Regions from separate parts of the Homo sapiens genome. Here region 1 is linked to region 2. The links come from fine-mapping of genetic effects on gene expression. A gene starts in region 2. The other region holds a variant in brackets. All regions are shown on one strand. Distances are between the middles of the regions.

Region 1 (2,740 bases), 160 kb after region 2:
AAAAAAAAAAAAAAAGGAGGATAGAACATATTTTATTTAACAAGTTATTCGCTTGATTTCTGACTTAAAAATTTTTAGACATATGGTATCCCCCATTTGTAATTTTGCACTGGGTGCTACGGATGTTCAGGATAGCCCCGAAAGTCACGTCATCTATAAAGAAACAACAAGAGACCGAAAGCTGGTTTCTTATTTCAAACAGTAGATAATGCACAGAGGATAATGCAGTATCTTCAAAATGAAAGGGAAAATTTCTGTCGGTTTAGAATTCCCTGTCTAGTTAAACTGGTATTCAAAAGTGAGGATAAAATAAAGACATTATCAAACCAAGACTAAGAGAATTTCCCACTCACAGACCCTTGCTGAAAGAAGTCCTGAAAGATGTAGTTTATTTATTTATTTTGAGACAGAGTCTTGCTCTGTCACCCAGGCTGAAGTGCAGTGGTGCAGTCTTGGCTTACTGCAACCTCCGCCTCCTGGGTTCAAGCAATTCTTCTGCCTCAGCCTCCAGAGTAGCTGCGACTATGTATGCACCACCGTGCCTGGCTAATTTTTTCGTATTTTTAGTAGGGACGGGGTTTCACCATGTTGGCCAGGCTGGTCTTGAACTCCTGACCTCAAGTGATCTGCCCGCCTCGGCCTCCCAAAGTGCTAGGATTATAGGCATGAGCCACCACGCCTGGCCAGGATGTAGTTTAGAAAGAGGAAAAATAAACCCAGCAGAAAGGATCAGTATGTGAGGCTTAATGATGAGCAAAGAAATTACTGATTTTTAGAGGATAAGCACAGAGTGGAACTAGACTAGTACCTAGCAATCAAGTGAAAGGTGAGAGGCAAGATTCACAGTTAAAACAGTCTAAGATCTTTATGATGTAAGGTATACAATTTAAACTTTTTCAGCTATAACTTTTTAGTTTTTTTTTATCTCAGAAAAAAATATGGAATGCTTCACGAATTTTTTATTTTTTTGTGTGTGGAGATGACGGGGTCTCACTATGTTCACCAGGCTGGTCTTGAACTGCTGGCCTCAAGCAATCCTTCTGCCTTGGCCTCCCAAAGTGCTAGGACTACAGATGTGAGCCACCTTACTGGGTCTCAGCTATAAATTTTAATATTTTTAAAGTAACTATGTTAAGCAAATATGCAAAAAGAAAGAAAAAAAGTGAATAGTTAGGATGAAAGACCCCTTCCCCCAGAAAAGCAAAACAAGTTTAGTTGTTAGTACATATAAAATAGTCCTCATTTCAATATGAGAAAAGGCACTG[AT/A]TTTTTTTTTTTTTTTTTGAGACGGAGTCTTGCTCTGTCGCCCAGGCTGGAGTGCAGTGGCATAATCTCGGCTCACTGCAAGCTCTGCCTCCCGGGTTCACACCATTCTCCTGTCTCAGCCTCCCGATAGCTGGGACTACAGGTGCCCGCCACCATGCCCGGCTAATTTTTTGTACTTTTAGTAGAGACGGGGGTTCACCATGTTAGCCAGGATGGTCTTGATCCCCTGACCTCGTGAACTGCCCGCCTCGGACTCCCAAAGTGCTGGGATTACAGGTGTGAGCCACCGCACCCGGCCTACTAATTTATTTTTTGTAAAACTCCTCTAACCCAAACCACTGGCTATAAAATACTACCACCTCTGCCATCATTGTCCCCCAAATACAAGTTATTTTTCATCTGTGAAGGAAGCTTTATGAGAGCTATTGCACTTTATTCTTATAAAACTCCATGAAAGATAGACATTAAAATGTTTGCAGAAATCTCATAAACTTGGCTTTTAAATGAATGAGTCAGTCATCAACAGCTATTTGCACAAAACTTTACTCTTTTCTCTGAGCAATACAAAGAAAACAGGACAGTCCCTCCCATGAAGGAGCTTAAAATCTGATTTGGCAGACGCAAGCTGTATAAACTCACCTGGAAATAAAACCTGGGATAGAAGACAGCAAATAGTAAAAGGCTGCAATTGGTATAACCCTTACATATCTTGGAAGGCTTTGACTCAATACATGAAATTTGAGCTTTAAGAGAGGTAGAATTTCGTTAGAGAAAACTGGGGACTGGCATAAGCATAAAGCACTAAAACAGAGAAAGGTGTTAGAGCCAAGACAGAAGATATTTTCAAAAAAGAAGGGTAGCTGGGTGTGGTGGCACATTTCTGTAGTCTTGTAACTGCCCAGTGGGTTCGTTTTCCTTGCTGCCCAGATAGAGCTGATTTATCCAGACAGGGGAGTCATGATACAGAGTTTAACTCACACAGAGCTGGCTGACAGGAGACCAGAGTTTTATTATTACTCAAATCAGTCTCTTCAAAGATTTAGAGACTAGGGTTTTTCAAAGACAGTTTGGTGGGTACAGGGCCAGTGAGTCGGGAGTGCTGATTGGTTGGATCAGAGATGAAATCATAGGGAGTCAAAGCTGTCCTGAGCTGAATTGGTTTCTGGGTGGGGCCCACAGGACTGGTTGATGAGTCCAGGTGGACCCATTGTTCATCAGAAATGCAAAAACCCAGGCCGGGCGCGGTCACTCACGCCTGTAATCCCAGCACTTTGGGAGGCCGATGTGGGTGGATCACAAGGTCAGGAGATCATGACCATCCTGGCCAACATGGTGAAACCCCGTTTCTACTGAAAATAAAAAAAAAAAATTAGCCGGGCATGGCGACGTGCACCTGTAGACCCAGCTACTCAGGAGGCTGAGACAGGAGAATGGCGTGAACCCGGGAGGCGGAGCTTGCAGTGAGCTGAGATCA
Region 2 (3,019 bases):
TCATGTATTGTTGATTAGGTTGTTCATCAGTTAATCTTGAATAACTGAAATCTAAGCTGAAGGCAATAATACATCGGCTTTCTTTTCATGCAAGTCAAACTGCTAAAATCTACCACAAAATATTAGCCTTTCATCAGCTTGGTCTTCAGATCCAATACATTTTCCCCTCAAATGAAAGACAATGCAATGCCATCCACAACAATGCTAAAAAAAAAAAAAAAAAAGGAGGAGGGAAACAAGGTTAAGTCCTGTCTTCTTCCTCCTACCCCAAAAAGAGCTCAGAAATTAAGGTGCTTTCCCTAACAAAGCCTCCTCCTGCTCCATGAAGTGACCAAGCATGTCATGGCAGACCCAGAGATTTATAATCTTCAACATATCGTTATCGGGGAAATCAAGATTTGACAAAATTCTTCCTTCACGCCCCGTTTCTGCAAGACCACCACTTTCTAGCTTAAAATAAAGAAAAAAAAAAGACAGCTGCAGGAATGCTTGGCTGCCCGCTAATGTACAATTTTGCCCAAACGCAGAACTTGACGCCCACTATTACCAAAGGATGGCCTTAGTAAAGTAACCCCCGCGAAGAGCAAACTGTTTAGCAGCCGCTCCCTCGAAAAGGACGGAAGAGGAGGTCTCTTCTGAACCTGAGGATAGTAGAGAGGCACTCCCCTTCCACTACTAGCTTTGCTCCTTTCTCAATCAGGCAGTTCATCAGCTAGCCTCCTTTGTCAAAGGGGGTTGATGGTCAGAATCTTTGCGAGACAAAAATTACTAAAAGAGCTCCCAGGAACCAATGTTAAGGCATCAAAGGCCCCGCCCAGCCCCCACAATGATCAACAAACCAAAACCTGGGATCCCTACTATTACCACCACCACAACCATCACCACCACCACCACCACCATTCCTCGCTCTCTCTAGCCAGGGATGAGACTCAGGCCCAGGAAACCCATCCTTTCCGCAAGTAGGAAGGCGCTGGGTCTCCTCCCTTAGGCCTCTCCTTTACCCCATTGTTCTCTCCGGACCCCTCCACTACGGCCAGGCGCTATGTATGTTTTCAACCCCCAAGAAGCCCAGTCCCAGCCACACACAAGATGGCAGCCTCACACCTACCGGAGGAAACAGCTGCGCCACCACTCCAGTGATGCCGGCCTCTCGACTACGAGTAACTCCATTGGCTCAGCTACAGTGCGCGAGACAAGCCGAGAGCGCTAGCAGTCAATCGGGAGGCGGCGCGCTCGGGCGCCACTGCGGTGCCAGCGGTAAGTGCGCCGAGTCTCTGAGGCGTGAACCAGTGGGGAGTGCGACCAATCAATGGGCTCCTGGCTGGGTGGTGGGACGGCCGGCGTCCGACTCCTCCCATGTAGTGATCGGTTTAGGTAGGTCGGCCTGGTCCCCGGCGGAGGTTACGCCTTCCCTCATCCCCGGTAGAGGCAGGGCGGGACTGTTGTGGTTGAGATGAAGGCTAGTAAATGGTGAAGTACTTCCCGGCCAGAGGGCACCTGCGCTCGGGAGGTTTGGGCGGCTTGGCGTCGGAGGAGAGCCCCACCCGCGGAGGAACCCAGCCTTGCCAACGGAGCTGGCGGAGCTCACTCCTCAGGTCAGGCGGGCGGCGTAGAAAACGCAGCGGAGCCAGGTGAAACCAAGGCACCGCCGTGGCTGGCCCCCGACAGTTCCTCTAGCCGGGAGGTTGGAGGAGCTGAAAACGCCGCGGAGCCCTCGGCCGCCCGAGCAGGGGCTGGACCCCAGCCCTTGCAGCCTCCCTTCTCCTGGCACCCAAGTGCAGTCCTGGCTGCAGAAGGGGCCGCGGGCGCACTGAGTTTCCAACCTCCATTTCAGCCTGTCTGTCTCAGGGTGCAGCCTTAATGAGAGGTGATTCCTAAGCTGCTGGGAACCTGAGGTTGTCAAAGGGGCGGCAGGAAATGGACAGCAGTATAAAACCCAGAAGCAGAACTTGAAGGTTAAACCACTAGCCCATTTCACAGGTAAGATTACACGAGCCCTTAAATACAGCAAGTTCAGTCATTCATCCAAGATCATGGAGTTCAGATTAGATAGTAACACTTCTGACTCGCTATCAGCCACAGCCCAATAAGTAATTAAGTAAGGAAAGATATGTAATTAACTGTGCTCTTTGGCATGTGGAAACCTGCAGTGAGCTCTGTAAATACTAACACATGAGGCCAAGGAGAGGAGTAAATTTGAAGAGGTCAAATGGAGTAACCAAAGCATAGGCTCTGAAACCATGCTGCCTGGTTCCTTATTTCGTGTCTGCCACTTACGGTATGGCATTCCTTAGCTTCCTCATCAGCAAACGAGCTGCTAATTTAACCCACATGACTGTTAGGGGGATTAAATAAGAACACGTGAAGTAGTTAGAAGCGTGACTAACCCGTGGTTCTTAAGCGTGACTTAACCCGTGGTTCTGTCGTTACAATTAAAACGTAAGGAGCCGAGAGGAAATGGTAAACGTGTTTTTAAAGCCTGTTTTAGAAACGAAAAGGAACCATACATTGAAGCAAAGCAGACTGGCTTAATTATTTTTCTACCAAAATGAAAAAGTGAGAAGGGGAAAAAAGTTTTTTAAGCCCATTTACTCTCTGAAATATTAACACCAGTTGTCTCTGGATGATGGGATGGTGTTTAAATTTTCTCCTTTATGCTTTATTGTATTTTGCAGATTTTCTCCAGGAAACATGTTTTACTTGTGCACGTTCAGTTTTCAAATTTTCAGGTGTGAACGCTGGTGAGAGCTGCTTAAAAACAAAGCTATGGGCCGGGCGCGGTGGCTCACACCTGTAATCCCCACACTTTGGGAGGCTGAGGCGGGCGGATCACCTGAGGTCAGGAGTTCAAGACCAGCCTGGCCAACGTGGTGAAACCCCGTCTCCACTAAAAACACAAAAATTAGCCGGGCGTGTGGTGGCGGGCCCCTGTAATCCCAGCTTCTCGGGAGGCTGAGGCAGGAGAATCGCTTGAACCCGGGAGGCAGAGGCTGCAGTGAGCCGAGATCACGCCACTGCA

Evidence for each region.
Region 1: its variant is fine-mapped to the expression of SETDB2 in B cells (Fairfax 2012, PIP 0.95).

The regions. Positions count from the first base shown.
Region 1 is chr13:49,600,391-49,603,130 of GRCh38, forward strand. No RefSeq gene overlaps it. Among named protein-coding and RNA genes, the nearest start is that of RCBTB1, 16 kb to the left of the region's middle. The variant AT/A (reference allele first, on the strand shown) is at 1,266.
Region 2 is chr13:49,442,878-49,445,896 of GRCh38, forward strand. It overlaps SETDB2 (SET domain bifurcated histone lysine methyltransferase 2), which reads left to right and starts at 1,397. Exons shown (of 14, transcript NM_001160308.3): 1 at 1,397-1,980. It overlaps CAB39L (calcium binding protein 39 like), which reads right to left and starts at 1,187. Exons shown (of 11, transcript NM_001079670.3): 1 at 1,109-1,187. It overlaps SETDB2-PHF11 (SETDB2-PHF11 readthrough), which reads left to right and starts at 1,397. Exons shown (of 21, transcript NR_135324.2): 1 at 1,397-1,980. RefSeq lists enhancers at 565-634, 1,004-1,776, 1,015-1,094, 1,777-2,550 and silencers at 1,103-1,583, 1,255-1,304.